2 separate regions of the Homo sapiens genome follow, and region 2 is linked to region 1. The links come from fine-mapping of genetic effects on gene expression. Tissue or cell type: whole blood. Region 1 holds a variant in brackets; the other region holds the start of a gene. All regions are shown on one strand. Distances are from middle to middle.

Region 1 (8,109 bases):
TGACACATTTGCTTTATTTCTCTCTACACTATCTTTCTCTTACATACTTAGTACATATCCTTATTTTTTGCTATATCTTTCAGAAATAAGTTGCAGAGATTATGACTCCTCACCTTTAAATACTGCAGTATGTATCTCCTAGGAAGGGCTATACTATTCACAATGCAGCCTCTTTTAATTTTGATTGTGACAAGTCATATGGTGCTCACCTGACTTGGTATTTTCATGATAGACAGCAAAAATAACTTCTGCAAACTCCAACAACTCTGCTAGGAAACAGGCCTCTCCACTACAGTGCTGAGTCACCAAGTTACATGTGAACTCAACGTGATGGGAGAACTCAGGGCAGAAAGAACAGGCCACAGGGTGGGTTCGGCGCTGTTCTCCCTGGGGCAGGAAGGAGAGATGAGTGGTGACAGAGGCATTGACCCCGACTGTGGCACTAAACTGTAGAGCGGGTTCCCGTTCAGCCAAAGCCCTGTAGAGGAGAAGGGTGGAAATGAGAAGATACCATGGTAACATTAGAAATCAGCTTGATTTTCTAGAAAATAACTTCATTACTTCTATGAGACCACCAAGAATAAAACCAACTATATGCTTTCTATCTAGGCTTTTGGCAGTGCCACAATGGGCTTTCTTAGTAATCTAGATATCATGGCATATGTATATGGGAGTGGAGGGGATAACATCTGCCCATCAGAGTGACTCTGAGGATGACCCACTGTCCTGTCAATGCTCTTAAGTCAAGGACCACAGGAACCAACTCTAGTTGAACAAGCTGGGTTTACTGCTCATTGCAATTAAGGAAAATATACACCATGGGGAACCATAGTACATCTCAGTGAGAAGTATCAGAAAGGGCTTATCAGCATTGGACTTGTGTTAGCTGACTTGAGTGAGGGCTTAAAGGAGCAGGGCTTTGCTCTGGATTGATTTTCTTAAAGAATCTTATCTAGACGGAGGGAATACTAGAGTAAAGCTAAAGCTATAACTGGTGAAGCAGCAGCTGTCACTCATTTTAGCCAGACAGGAGGATGTTGGCTGTTTCTATGGTTTGCATAAGTGACCTCGTTTTGGTCTGTGCTTAGACATGATGATGGAGCTGTCTTGTTTTTGTCTCACTTCATCATAGTCATACAGTGATCTTGTCTGATGCTGATGTTCTGTAAGATTACTTATGGTCAACAAGAAAACACCAAAGCCTACCTATGAATTTTGGCCCAATTCCCAGAAGTCTGGGGCTGCTTTTATCTTTCTCAGCACAGATGTTCCATGATGTATAAATGGAATCTACACGCCTTTAACGACACTCATAAAGAGTAGTCAAGTCATTTGGGTGTAGCTACAGTATGGGACAAACCCCCTTTCCCTAAACTCCCCAAGGCGATAGAGTTGACATCTAGGCAAAGAAATCACCTATTTTTGAAGCATTTCTTGATATCCCTAAAGTAGACTTCTGGGTTCCTTCCTGTTAAAACCTTACTGTACTTCATAGAGAGTAGTAATTTGGAGTTATACAGATCTGGGTTTGAATGCTGGCTCCACCATTTACTTACCATGTGACTCTGGATAAGTTATTCAACCTCCTTTAAGTCTCAGTTTCCTCTTCACTAAGATGAGGTTAACATAAGATAGTATATAAATACTAAAGATGTATATTATATATTTGGATGCTTACTGCAATTTCATTTCTAAGAAAAAAAGAAAAACTTTTTCCTTTTCATTATCGTTAATGATCATTAATAGATGATTTATCATTAACAGAAGATTAATGTGCATCCATACAATAGTATACCATGAAGTATATATTATGCCTAGGAAAAATGGGGTGAAAATAAATTGAATGCTAGCAGTAGCTTAAAAAATGAGGATAGGCTGGGTGCGGTGGCTCGCGCCTGTAATCCCAGCACTTTGGGAGGCTGAGGTGGACGGATCACCTGAGGTCAAGAGTTTGAGACCAGCCTGCCCAACATGACGAAACCCCATCTCTACTAAAAATACAAAAACTTAGCCGGGCGTGGTGGCGGGCACCTGTAATCCCAGCTACTCAGAGGCTGAGTCAGGAGAATCGCTTGAACCCAGGAGGCGGAGGTTGCAGTGAGCTGAGATCGCACCAGTGCACTCTAGCCAGGGCGACAAGAGTGAAACTCCATCTCGAAAAAAAAAAAATGAGGATAAAATACTCATAGGGTGTTGTAAAGATAACATTAGATAATATATACAAAAGAAAGAACTTGCATATGGACAGTGAAGGACTCTTAATAGGGAACTTTCAGAGATGGCAGTGAGATGGCAGAAAGGCTTGGGCCCCAAGCTGGTTTGAATTCACTCATTCAGTCGTTATTTGCTGGGTATCTGCTCTGTGTGTCATGCCTTGGGCTCAGCTGGATATATAGTAGTGAAGTAGCCTCAATTCCTTAGCTTCACGGCATTTAAAGACTACTGGCTATGTCCAAGAAAGGTTCTATTCACTCTGAGTTAAAGATCAGGTGAGTTAGAAGAAGCAAGTCAGTAAGAAGTGCCTACTTTACATAGGCACCAACAATGTATTTTCAGGAAGACCACTGGCAGGTAAGATGGAGGCTGGTGTTTCTTGATGAGAGAAGACTAATTTACAGCACCTGCTATCTAGATGCCAGCGTAAGGATTCAAGAGGGGTAAGTTTAGAACATCAAGAATTCTTTTCAGTAAGAGGCAATGCAAAATTTACTTCTCTGATTTTACTGGCAAATAGAGGTCACAATTATCTATACAAGTGGAAGTAATCATAAAAATCTGTATATTTGTACAATAGTTTGTAGTTTATAAAATGACTTCATATTTGTTAATTTTTACACTGATCCCTACAAAATCAGGGTAGGTATTTAAAATTTCCATTTCAGATGAAGAAACCGAAGCTCATGGAAGTAAAGAAATCAGCCCCAAATCATACACAGCTAGTAGGAGATGGGGGTGAGACTAGAAGCTATAGTGTCTGATTTCTAGAACAGTTCTGTGTCCATTATACCATGCATTGTCTCACATCCTGTGAACCTCTCCCAACCTACCAGAAGAGTGTTGTGTCAGAACTGGCCTGGCTTCTTGTTCTCCCTCCTTGAATATATGACACAGACCAAATGGGAGATTTAGAACAAACTGCCTGTCATCCAATCTGACTTTCCTCATGAGTCCTCAGACAGAGCAACTACTGAGTTTCCGACTTGTTATCTGCCCTCTCTGAGATCTACTGAGTATCTAAATTCTGAGTCCTTCTCTGCCAATTAAATGCTAGTTAATTTAATGCCATATTGAAGAATTCTGATGTTGGCTGGATCTGAGACTGAGGAGGTACTCCAAAAACACAAGTTTCATGCCTCCCTGCCTTTGCACATGTTCTTCTCTTTCACCAAAATAATTTTCACCCCTTTTGGGTATCTTGATAACTACTATTCTTCTTTTAAGACTCAGATTTATTTTGAAGGGGCTTGAATGCCAAGCTAAGGAAGTTGGACCTTATTATATGGACCAATGATCCCTAAAGAAGGCTGTATACAACTTAGGAGGTTCATAGGATAAACTATATTGGTTATCTCATATATTAAAGTTTTTCTATTCCATGGTATATCTTAGAATATATTTTGTATATGAGTATAGCAGTACATGAAGATGATTTATACATGAGTAAATATGTACATATTTAAAGGGTATGCTACCTTTTTTATTAATAGGAATGCATAATTAAAATTATGAGATCACTGCTATCAACAATGGGAAATCATCAAGTTTTAATGTAAGGAAGTGGTATGATTATAAAACTGCTTTACTGTCTCAGTGATGGGATCTGTACCCTAAACCTTAGCATCATGCGACATACCCATATAACAAATCTGCACATGTACCCCTGTATCTAAAATAAAAAGTTGAAATTAAACAAACAAACAAACGAAACACACCAAAAACCAAAACAAACATAAAAACAAAACCCAAAACCAACCTGTCTTGACATCACCTTCACTAACACTAAGATGTTCTTGGGCAGTAACTGAAAGAGTCTACGTGGAGAATTTAGTGAGGAACAATATTAACTACACTGAGTATCTTAGCTCTTCAGCATCAGATCTCACACAATAATGCAATTTCTTATTTGGAGACCATAAAGTTATAGGTGAACAGTTTGACCCTCAGCTACAACAGGGAAAAAGTTAGGGAGCACTTGTCTGTTTCTTTGTTCAAAGGGTGTCAGTCTGAAGCAGGAGCCTGATCTAGTTCTCTTTCTTACTGGGTGCCTGTTATATGCTAGAACTATGCTAGGAGGTTAGAAGGATGGAGAGGAGCTCAGGCAGTATCTCTGACTAGAGGAACTCACAGCCTAGTGGGAGAAAAATGCATGTATGCCAATAATTGAAACAGAATATGTGCTACAACCAAGGTGTTAACAAAGGAAAAACCACCAACTCTGCCTACACGTACAAAGAAATAAAGAGAGACTGTAAAGATGTTGCAAAGTCTTGAAGGAAAATAGGAGTTTGTTAAGTAGACAAAAGGAAGAAGAATATTCAAGGCAGAGAGAAGTATGAGTGAAGACCTGAAGGAGGTAAGGGAAAGGGCTGTGCTGTTTTTCTAGAGAAATAGTGTTCCAGGCAGAGAAAACAGCAAGACAAAGGCCTTGAGAGGAAAATATGCTTGGTGTGTTCAGAAGCAACATGGGGGTTGTGGCTGGAGTGGAGTAAGCAGAGGGCAGACTAGCAGGAGATGAGATCACAAAGATAGATGGGGGGTGGGGCACGTGGTTTAGATCATATGGGGTCTCATAGCCATTTTAAGGGCTCTGGTTTTTACTCTGAATAAGATCAAACATAGGCCAGGTGCACTGGCTCACGCCTGTAATCCCAGCACTTTGGGAGGCTGAGGCGGGTGGATCACTTGAGGTCAGGAGTTC[G/C]AGATCAGCCTGACCAACACAGTAATGAGGATCCCGCCACTGCACTCTAGCCTGGGCGACAAAGCTAGACTTAAGTGTTCATAGGTTCACTGGCTACTATGTTGAGAACAGACTAAAGGGGTGCAAGCTGGAAAAATAGGAGGTAGTACTCAGAGACTGAAAGGAATGAAGTGAGATTACACAGGAGTTGCAGTGATTGGGTATGGCATGGTTTGATGGTGTAGGGTATGGCCATAAGACTAAGTTGTTAAGAAAGGCACAGGATAAAATTGTTGGGCAAGGTCAAGGAGGTAAGTTGCTAACAGTTAAAATAGCAACGTTTGCAAGTGATTTACTCATATTCTGAAATGCTTTATTAACAGAAAAAGAGGAGTTGTGGTTAGTGAACTGGAAATTATACCTAAGAAAGTTTTGCATATCTGAGCATTATTTTACAATGATTGCAGTGTAAAAGGCTTGAGAATTGCTTGTCTCAGGTGGACTTACTTGGCTGCTGCTTGCAGACCACAGGCTCTGATAATCTGGACTGAGATGGAAACAGTTCGGGCAGCAAGAACTCCCTCTGCTGTTCTTGGACTACGCCTGTACCTTAGGCCCACATCCAGTAAACCTGAAGAATGAGGACACAAGGAAAGAAGGTTGGTCAGAAGAATCTCTGTTCCACCAAACCACAAAGTTTTGGTCAGGAAGGATGGAAGAGGATTAACACTACAACGAACAATAAGGGCAATGAGAGAATCTGTCCTTGTCATAATCACATTGTTATTCTTTAAGGTTAATAAAGGTTTAACAGGTTACTAATTTACTTTACATTCAAGAAATTATGGTTCAGAGATTTAATTCCTTGCCAAGATTACACAACTACTGAAGGCAGAACTTAACTCCAGATTTCTTTTTACCCCCAATTATGTTTATAGAATTGAGATGGGCTCTAGCCATTTTCTTTTTAAACTTTCAAACGGTTTCCACACCTCACATACTTCTATCACCCTCCTACCATCACCACCTGAAATATCCTTCTCATGCTACCTTTTTATAAAACCTCTATCATCCTACTGTCACATTTCAGGGACAGCTTTATGGAATAACAGAATAAGCTGATCAGGGAGGGTCAGGAGAAACAACTCAATCTTAATTATGGTGACATAAAACCTATTGTTTTGGCAGATACTCTTTAGCAAGCATGTACAGCAACTTGATATAGGAGGCTAAACTTCGTTATCTGATGATAAATTTAGAGGGTACACCATCCTGCTGGAAGCATTAGGATGTAATATCATTCAAATCTCCAAATTCGAATTAATCCTCTCCTAACTTTAAACCCTAGCCTTCTCCTCCCTTACAGTGAATTCCTGGTTCATGCTATCTTCTACCAATCCCCTATCTGCTCATGTTGGCTTGGAATAACAATTCTCTGAGTGTACCATATAATGCTTAGAATTTATGGCATGAGGGCTTATAAAATGCTTGCTGAAGTTAAAGGTGAAATGAGACAAGCAACATTTACATAGACTCCATGGAGCTATGAGTTTTCTAGAATTGTATACAAAATTGGCAGTGTATATTCTATACTCATTTTTTCCAAGACAAGGTGTCTTACAGTTTTCATCAGATCCTCAAAAGGGCAAATCCCTCAAAATGTGGAGAATCACTAATTTAGAGAGAAAAGGGATGTTTATGTATACTGTATATTTTATATATATATATGTGTGTGTGTGTGTATATATATATATATTTTTTTTTTGAGACGAGTTTCGCTTTTGTTGCCCAGGCTGGAGTACAATGGCTTGATCTTGGCTCACTGCAACCTCTGCCTCCTGGGTTCAAGCAATTCTTCTGCCTCAGCCTCCCAAGTAGCTGGGATTACAAGCATGGGCCACCATGCCTGGCTAATTTTTTTGTATTTTTGGTAGAGACGGGGTTTCTCCATGTTGGTCAGGCTGGTCTCGAACTCCTGACCTCAGGTGATCCACCCGCCTTGGCTTCCCAAAGTGCTGGGATTAGAGGTGTGAACCACCGCACCCGGCTATTTTATATATTTTTATGTATACTGATTTTGAAAGAAAAAGACAAACTTGTTTTCAATTACCTGATGACTGGTTCCTCAATTCTTTCCTGTTCTCAATCCTGGGGGTTAAAGGGAGATTAAAGGTCTGTATTCCCACATCCTCACGATGCTGGGTGGTTACCATAGCACAGATCCTTGATAATGGCAAGGTTCCTTTGGCGACCTTCTGGTCTCTCACATTAGGATAATAGTATCTGTAAACCACAAAAGCACACGTTGTCAGAAGAATTAGGTGATAAATGATTCAGTCTGCCCCACAGATCAGCCTTCACTACCTGGTTATCTTTGGTGCCTGATTGTTCTGTGTTGGTAGTACGCAGCTATGGTGTCTGGCTAAATTTACCACTCATTATGTGGAGGAGGAACTCCATAAATTATACCGAGTTCAGGACAAAGCCTAGCTTCCCTCAAGTTTTCTGTGCGGTAACTGTACATGCCTTGAACCTGTCGGGGGTGGCCACTCCTGAAAGCTTCCATCTTGCAGCAGCAAAAGTGGTTCAAAGTGGAGTAGGCCCAATATCTTTCATGGCTTACTCTCATCTTCATGCTGAAGCCCCTCTAATTTACCAGGGTAATGAGGATCTGTCAGTACCTACTCTATTTCCTTCTTATGTCAAAACAATCCATTCTTAGATTGCAAAGTTGTAACTCAAACCTAGGTGGTTTTAAAAATCTTTTTTGTACTTGACTGACAATTAATTGTATTTAGGAAAGTGTTCTCGCATGTGGATGGTACTCATCCCTAGTTCTGTTCCTGATGCTGTTTCCTTTCCTCTTATATTTATACTCTCTTAAGCACTTTAGTTGGTTTGTCGGTGGTGCAGATGTAAAGGGGTGGGTTGAACATCCGTATTTATGCCAGTATTTTCCTGGAAATCTTCCAATGTCTGTAACATTGAGTGGATTTATATTTTATAATATAAATCAAATATAATAATTTATATATTTGTTATATATAAATTATATTATTAAATTATATTTATAAAATAAATATAAATGTTCCTCTGGTGGTGGGAAGAACAGGTTACAAGAAATGAGTTTATAAGTAGGAGGCCAGTTAGGAGGCTACCACAGTCATTTAGGCAAGATATGAAAAGGGCCTGAACTAAATAAGGCAGTAAGG
Region 2 (8,109 bases), 82 kb after region 1:
ACATGTTGATGTTTCAAAAATTTTTTCTCGAGAGAATGTAAGTTACTCAAGGACAAGTTAATCTTAACTCACCCCTGGCTCTCCAATATTCTGAGCCCAACCATGTTTACATGATAAATGCTCGAATTTTATTGACTTGAACTGAATTGACTTGATAAATAACCCCATCATCCAAAATGTATTTATGTGAAAGCTTGACCTGAATAAAGAAGTAACATAGTACACTCAGAATACTTTTCTTGTACAAAAATGAAGACATCTTGGCTTCTGGTTCCCTACAGAGGGATGCTTTCCATTTCTGAACATCTGTAATACTAACTCACTAAACCATTCATTTAGCATTTAGTATGTATTATCTTGTACTATTGGTAAATTTTACATCTATATCCTCTTTCCTTGAGTATAATGTAAACCCCAGAGTTGAGACTACAGTTATTACCTAAAAAAGCATGGTGTAGTGAAAAGAGCATGAGTTTTGGTGACAGACAGAAGTGGGTTCAAATCCTAATTCAGCCATTTATCAACTTTGTGACCTTAGAAAGTATTCATTTCATCTCTCCAACTTGTTTAATTGTCTATAAAACAGAGAAAATACCTATCTTTCAGGGTTATTGTAAGGATTAGAAGTAATACATTTCAAAACTGCTGGCACACAGTAACACTCAATAAATTTACAAAGAAAAATGTCTACTATAAAAACTCTTTGACTCTTCAATAATTAAGAATGCCCATATATGCTAGGTACACAACAACACTTATTGCTGACAATATAACCACATGCTTTGTATTACGTCTGCAGGTGCAATGATAAAACAATAACATACCTGTTAGATAAGAGGTAAACTGTTTTGGACCACAACGAATAGCGTAACGTGTAGTTGTTCTCACAGCTTTTGGTTCAGTCTGCAATGCATCCCTGGGACAAAAGAGGGTTCCATCTGATGTTTCTCCCCACCATCTCACTCGGACAAGTACACAAGTGGGAGGCTTTGCAATCTTCCATATGACTCTATTAACAGTAAGTTTTAGAAAACAGCGTAGCTGGCCTTCAACCAGAGGTGGCAGGCTTGTAGATGGAGAAATGTCACTTAAACCTGTAGAGGAATCCAAGAAAACTGAGTCAAAATTTAGACTAAATATAGAAAACATATAATATGCTTTTTGAATGAAAACAAACAGAACACTTTAGTCTTAAGTTCAGCAATTTATCACCACTTAGAAAGAAGGTTTATCCTACCCATTATTCTAATACATGAGAAGTAACTATCAAATCAGACCACCGAATAATCTATCTGGTCATGTAAGCCACTCTGATAACTAATTAGTATTTAAGGTTTGATTTGATTTACTCTAAGTTAAGAACATACCAACAAAGACACACTAATATAAACTTTTCTTTAGTTGAGTTACTATTTGAAAAATACAAATATCAGAAGTAGTTGACATTTTTCTAAGTATGGTTGAAATTTTTCTAAGTACAGTTGTTTTAATTATTGCAACATCTATGGTTTTTAAGATATGTAATCTTTATCTAACTCTCTTTTAAAAAAATCACTAACGATAAAACAGCAACAACTCCCTTCACTCACAAACGATTTAGACTATATCATACAACTCAGCATTTCAATGAAGAACGTCTTAAATTGTAACTTTTCTTTCCTGCCAAGATCACACAGTCAGTGAGGACACAGACTATCTAATCTTCAGATTCTGCCACTATTTTTAACACAGTGCTGGGTTCATATATTTATTGGCTTTAGTATTTATTGGGTTTCATAAAGACATTAAAGTGTAAACAAAGCAATTAATCATGACTTTCTAAAAAATTTTCCTTTAATGACCCTGATTGTCTTTCATTCATAGTACCTTTTCGGGAAAACTTAAAGGAGATTTAAGAAACCATTCCTATATTATTTATACCTTTTTTTTCCTTTGACTTTTCTTTGAGGAGTGGTTATGCCTCAAAGAAGAAAATATATGGAATGTATCAGATCAGGACTAATTATTTGGACTTCTAATGCAAACACCGCCTCTGCCCTCTATAGTGGAGAAAAGACCCACCATAATCCTTATGGATAGTTTCAACATAAAAATTATACACAGTTGTGTATACATTTCTACATATGGAAATGGTATAGCAAAAAGTGTATTCTGTTCTATGCTATGTTATATTATTTCTACTTTGACTTTCCGATTATCAACCAAACATGCTTAACTGTTTTGACACAGGGAGCACTAGTATGCTTCAGTCTCAGATCCTCCTATCTTTCCTGGCAGGAAAGTCAGTATCTCAAAACTGCCTTAGTAATCTTTAAACAGCTTGGATAAGAGTAATTCCCAGATTGTAGCTTCAGTCCTCAACCCAATGGCCTAATGTCCTATCACTGTTCCCAATACTTCTTTTCTCGCTAAACTGCCTACAATGCAAAAAGGCAGGGTCACCCACTGTCCTTTTTCCCTTCGAGGCAGTCTTGTAGAGATTCAATGTCAAGTTTCCTGATCTGCCCTGGGTTCCTAGGTTGACTGTTCTCACTGCAGCTAACATCCCCTACTCGGTGAGCTTGTGTCTCCTTGAGCTGCTAACCTGATGAGGACTCTCTGCTGCACACTCTTTCATGATCTCAGGTCCTTCAGGAGATCGTCATGCCCTTACCCCCACTCCAATCCTATCACACCTGTCATTCCCCACTCTTCCCGGCTCTATACTCTACAATTATTTTTCCCAACTCCTGCTCATAGTCAGCCCTTCATACTTCATTCATTCAACTAACATTTACCGAGTCCTGCTTTGTACTAATCCTTGGTCATTCAGTAATGTATAAAACGTGATTCTTGCCCACAATCACACAACAAATGATATAATCCCTTTGCCAATTTATGTTTCTTCCTGTCCCTGTGGACCTCGAAAGCTACACACACACATACATTTCACTTCGTTATCAAAACCAATCCCATCATTGTTTGTTCTTCTCCTCTACAGTCATCCTACCGGTAACCTTCATCTCATTAATCGCCTGTCTGTGGCCCCTACCCCAGCCCCTAATTCCTTTCTATTCTCTGGAGGGCCAATTGCCCTTCCTTTTAACCTTCTGGTTCCCTGGCTACTTCCTTCTTACGTCCCTTTTCTTGTTTATCCAGCGGGGGTGCGGGTCTCCCTAAAATTCCTTACACCCTGCTCTCCTATTACGCTTTCCTCAATCTTTGATCGCTCAGGTTACCTCTTTTTTTGCGCCCACGGCTGCCCCCAGACCCTTGGCCTTTTCGTTGTTTCATGATGAGCCCGAGCTCTTCTTCACCAGCTCAACTCCGTCTCCAGCACCTAAGCAGTATCCTCCCGCCATCCCTCCCCACGGCGCCTGCGTTCCCCGGCAACCGGCGCCGCTGGGCAGCCTGGGAGGCAGGAAAAAGCGACTCTTCCTCTAACAGTCTCCGGAAAACGGTGCGAAGAGAAGGCGCCAAGACGCCTTCCCTCCAATACACTACAATACCCAGGACGCTTTGCTACAATACCTCTCCGGGGTTGGCTGGGGGGCGCCTCCAGCTGCGCAAGCGCATAGGGATGCGCCCTTTGTGGACTCCATTGCGCAGGGTGCATTGCCCTGAAGAGCGCTCCTCCTTCCGGTGAAAGTCGTCGGGTTCCCAGCCGGGAGTCTGCGGAGTTCTCATACTCTGTTACCCAGCTTCCTTTGTATGAGTGCTGTTGCGCACTTCCGGTGGAAGCGCTGAAGCGAGTGGGTGGAGTTTACGGAGCCGGTGGGCGGTAGGCGGTGCTACGGGTAGCTGGGTGCTGTCCAAAGGCGACAGGGCGTCGTTAGGGGAGCGAGTCGTGACCGGTTGGGCCACACTCAACGTGGGACGAAGCTTCGCCTACTGTTTGACTACGTGCGTGCAGCCTCCCCTCGATGTCGGCCCTCGAAAAGAGCATGCACCTCGGCCGCCTTCCCTCTCGCCCACCTCTACCCGGCAGCGGGGGCAGTCAGAGCGGAGCCAAGATGCGAATGGGGTACGTGACCCATACCCCTTCTCCCTATGGGCCAGGCCCCAGCCGTTGGAGAATGGTATCTCTGGGCGTTCATAGAGGCACGGGAAAGGAGTCTACTGATAGGAGAAAATGTTGGCGGCCTGGAGATATTTAGATGGAGTAGAAGGCAGATTGGGGTACTAGGGGAGGCGCCAAGTCAATAGAAATTGGAGGAAAAATAACGTTGTTGAAGGGAGAGGGGAATGAGGCAAAGGTTGGGGAAGCTGAGAGACTAACATAAGGGATCTGAGAATCACTTCCACAATAAAGGAGGCTTAGAAAAGGGAGTAGAACGGTGACAAAGGTGGAGGAGAATCGGCCAGGGAAGGTGGAGGGAAGTGGGGAATGACTGAGAGAAAAGTTGAGGGGAATTGGGCCAACAACTAAGGAAAGGTTTGGGAGGAGTAGATATTATCAGAGTTCTAATATCTGCACTGTGAGAACTAGATACTAGAAAAGCTGAGGGGGGTAGAAAACACTCGAGACAGGGCTGGAGAAGGAAAGAGGAGAACTAGGAAGCAGACGATTCTAGAGAATTCCCAGAGGTGTAAAGACAGATTCAGCGAATGAGAGGTGAGATTAGGTCTCTTAAGGGAGAATGAGAAAGTTTAGGGAGTAGGCCTAAGGTAAGGTGGAGAACATAGCCACGAAGATTGTTAAGGGTAGTAGGAATGTGCTGAGAAGCTGGACAGGATAAGGGAGAGAGAAGAAGGAGAGGACTGAAGAATTTACAGAGTGAGAAGCTGGACAGGATAAGGGAGAGAGAAGAAGGAGAGAACTGAAGAATTTACAGAGTGACCATAGGCTCTAAAGATTGAGAGATGACTATAAATACGGTTTGGTGAATGGAAGTGCTGCAGTTGTAAGGTCTGGGAAGCTTAGAGGAAGATTTGGGCAATCAGTTTTTGCTGGGCTAGTAGATCTGAGGGAAGCGACGTACTGGCCTAAGACTTTGAATTAGTGAAGCATTGGGAGTTCGAGAAATAGTTTGCTGGAAAGGAAGGAGAGCCATGTAGAAGAGATAGGTTTTGGAATTTTAGATCGTTAAATGGCTTGTGCCAGGTTAGGGGATACTTGGGCCGAGGAGAAAGAATGAGGTGAACATGGGAGAAGTAATTGCTGGAAAGTGGAGAGAATTGAATAGGCATTTGGTTTTGAGGGGATATTTGTAGTTTCAAACAGGATTCTGGGAATTAGTGACTGTAAAGAGAAAAGGAGTAGGAAAGATACTTAGGTATGAGGGCTCCAGAGTATATTTGGGATTCTAGAGATGAATTGGTAGATATTCTTTGAAAAAGGACTACAGAAGAGAAACCTTAGGTTCTGAAGAAGTAATATGTGTAAAAACTTATCAAAAAGGAGGCGAGAGTAGGAGATGCAGTACTGTGACAGTAAGTCCTAGGGATGAAAAGAAAGGAGAATCCTATAAAACAGTGGGGTAAAGGAATGGGAAAAATGGGTGGAAAAACCAGGGAAGGAAACTAAGAATTGAGTGGAGACCTGCTATGATACGCAGTAGAAAAATGAGAAAACTTTAGCAGGAGGAGATAGAGAGATAGACGCACAATAGAGGTAGAAGGCTACATAGAAGGTAAAGTGAAGATTGTTTTGGCTTTGGAAGACAGAAAAGTTGGACTATAACATGAATAAAGAGAATTTGGAAACTGACCCATAACATTATTTGGGAAAACTAACCTGGAGTTTAATATTAATGTAACATTAATTGTTGTTAAATATCTTAGTTGCTGCCTTTCTTAAAATAAATTTGATTTTTCAGTATACCAGCACCCTTCTATACAAATACATAAGAAAATCAGATTTTTAATAATTATACATTCCTTAGATAAGCTTAATTAGAGCTCAGCTTCTCATCTTGGAGAAACAAGTTCTCTGAAGATTGAAGAACTGAATGAAGATACTGAGAGAAAAAAAAAGGAAAATCTGCTGATTAGAAGATTGTATAATTGTTAGTAATTTATCGTTTTTATTTTTTATTACTTTTCATTTTATTTTTTTTTAGAGACAGAGTCTCACTCTGTTGCCCAGGCTAGAGTGCAGTGGCACAATCTCGGCTCACTGCAACTTCCACCTCCCGGGCTCAAGTGATTCTTGTGCCTCAGCCTCCCAAGTAGCTGGGATTACAGGCATGCACCACCACGCCCGGCTAATTTTTGTATTTTTAGTAGAGAGGGGATTTCGCCATGTTGGCCAGGCTGGTCTTAAACTCCTGGCCTTAAGTGATCTGCCCCACTTGGCTTCCCAAAGTACTGGGATTATAGGAGTGAGCTACTGTGCCTGGACAACTTACCTTTTTAAAAAGATGCTTTGGTCTTCTTGGTTTAGGTTAACTGCTTATCCTGGAAAAGAAAGTTCTTTAGAAAGGCCTTTCTTTATGATAGTATTGTGAAGAGAAGAGCATATATTGGCGAATATTTGTGTGGTCCTCAAATGGCTTATTTTCCCGTATCTTTCTTTTCTACTTTATTGGTATATAAGCAGGCTTCATCTAAGTCTCATGGTAGTAATAATATAGATTCTCTTTCTCCTTAGAATCATAAAGCTGAGAGAAAGCATAGACATGGTCTCATTTCACCACTTCATGTAGTTGAGGAACCCAATATTCAGAGAGTTCTGTATTCTATAAGGGAATGTATTAATAAATGAGGGAACTGAGACTCAGATATTCCTAAGGTACCCTAGAAGCTTAGCGGTAGGGCCGTTAAGGACTAGGACTTGGGTCTCTTGACTGTGAGACCCATTGTGTATTTTGGAGTCATAATTGTCATCTGGGGATACTTATTTTGAGTTGTGTATCTTACTCATTTGCATATAATCTAGGATTCAGTCTTTTTCTTCAGTCGTAATTTATGAAGTCTCACACCAATTTCAAAGCATTCTTTATGTCTCCTTATGCTTACTTGCTTTTTTCTTAACTTCCATTCTTCCACTCTATCTATGTTACTCACAAGTTAGTCCTGTTCTCTTGATAGTCTCTTGTGTGGCTTACTCTTAACTATTTTTCATGATCTCTTGCCTTCAATTTCACTAAACATTATTTAGGCATGTTTGCATATTCAGGGTGCATATTCTGAGTTGGTGATTTTTCATGAGTTTCCATAATTCAGTTTTTCAGATTAGATTTAGTAATTCCAAAGTATTGTTGGATAATTTAATAATAGCAATTTTTAAAGTAAGTACTGTGTGCCAGACATTGTAATGGTAACTTTATGTTATTTAATGTGTCCACAGACCTGCATGGTGAATATTTTCCTGCATTGTGGGTAAAGACATTCAGACCCAGAGATTAAAAGTAACCCAACTAGTAGGTAGCAGAGCTAGGATTCAATCTAAGTTTAGTCTCTAGAATCCATTCACTTTTCAGTACACTAATATTTTCTCTTGGGTAAGGCCTGAAATCCTGGTGTCACTCTTCCTTTTAATAGATGCCAATGGATGTTGCCAAAAACAGTGGTTTTGAACTTCTTTATTAAAGCTTTTAGAGCTACTCTGACTAAAGTAGATTTGAGATCCCTATTTGCTTTGCACCCCTGGTGTGCTTGAGAGAAGTATCTTTTGAAAGTCACTGCTTTCGTATATACTATTACTATTAGAGGAACTATAAAATATTAAAGCCATTCATTATTCAACGTGTTTTTGGTTTATCAGTAGTTGTACTTTTTGGCCAGGTGTGGTGGCTCATGCCTGTAATCTCAGCACTTTGGGAGGCCGAGGCGGGTGGATCACCTGAGGTCGGGAGTTCAAGACCAGCCTGACCAACATAGAAAAACACCGTCTCTCCTAAAAATACAAAATTAGCTGGCGTGGTGGCACATGCCTGTAATCCCAGCTACTCAGGAGGCTGAGGCAGGAGAATCACTTGAACCTGGGAGGCGGAGGTTGTGGTGAGCCGAGATCGCGCCATTGCACTCCAGCCAGGGCAACAAGAGCGAAACTCCATCTCAAAAAAAAAAAAGTTCTACTTTTCTATTATTATCTCTTAAATTCCTTTTTTTTTCTTTTGCAAGAGATAGAGTCTTGCTGTGTTGCCCAGGCTGAAGTACAGTGGCTTTTCACAGGCATAATCTTGG

What was found. PIP is the estimated chance that this variant, and not a neighbour inherited with it, causes the effect.
Region 2: C2CD3 starts here. The variant in region 1 is fine-mapped to the expression of C2CD3 in whole blood (TOPMed, PIP above 0.99).

What each region holds. Positions count from the first base shown.
Region 1 is chr11:74,085,409-74,093,517 of GRCh38, forward strand. C2CD3 (C2 domain containing 3 centriole elongation regulator) reads right to left here. Exons shown (of 33, transcript NM_001286577.2): 19 at 7,008-7,180; 20 at 5,405-5,528; 21 at 210-478. Among named protein-coding and RNA genes, the nearest start is that of UCP3, 80 kb to the left of the region's middle. The variant G/C (reference allele first, on the strand shown) is at 4,919.
Region 2 is chr11:74,167,520-74,175,628 of GRCh38, forward strand. C2CD3 (C2 domain containing 3 centriole elongation regulator) reads right to left here and starts at 3,483. Exons shown (of 33, transcript NM_001286577.2): 1 at 3,219-3,483; 2 at 825-1,094. The coding sequence starts at 3,273. It overlaps PPME1 (protein phosphatase methylesterase 1), which reads left to right and starts at 3,770. Exons shown (of 14, transcript NM_016147.3): 1 at 3,770-4,003. The coding sequence starts at 3,903. RefSeq lists enhancers at 2,718-3,641, 3,415-3,864, 3,642-4,564.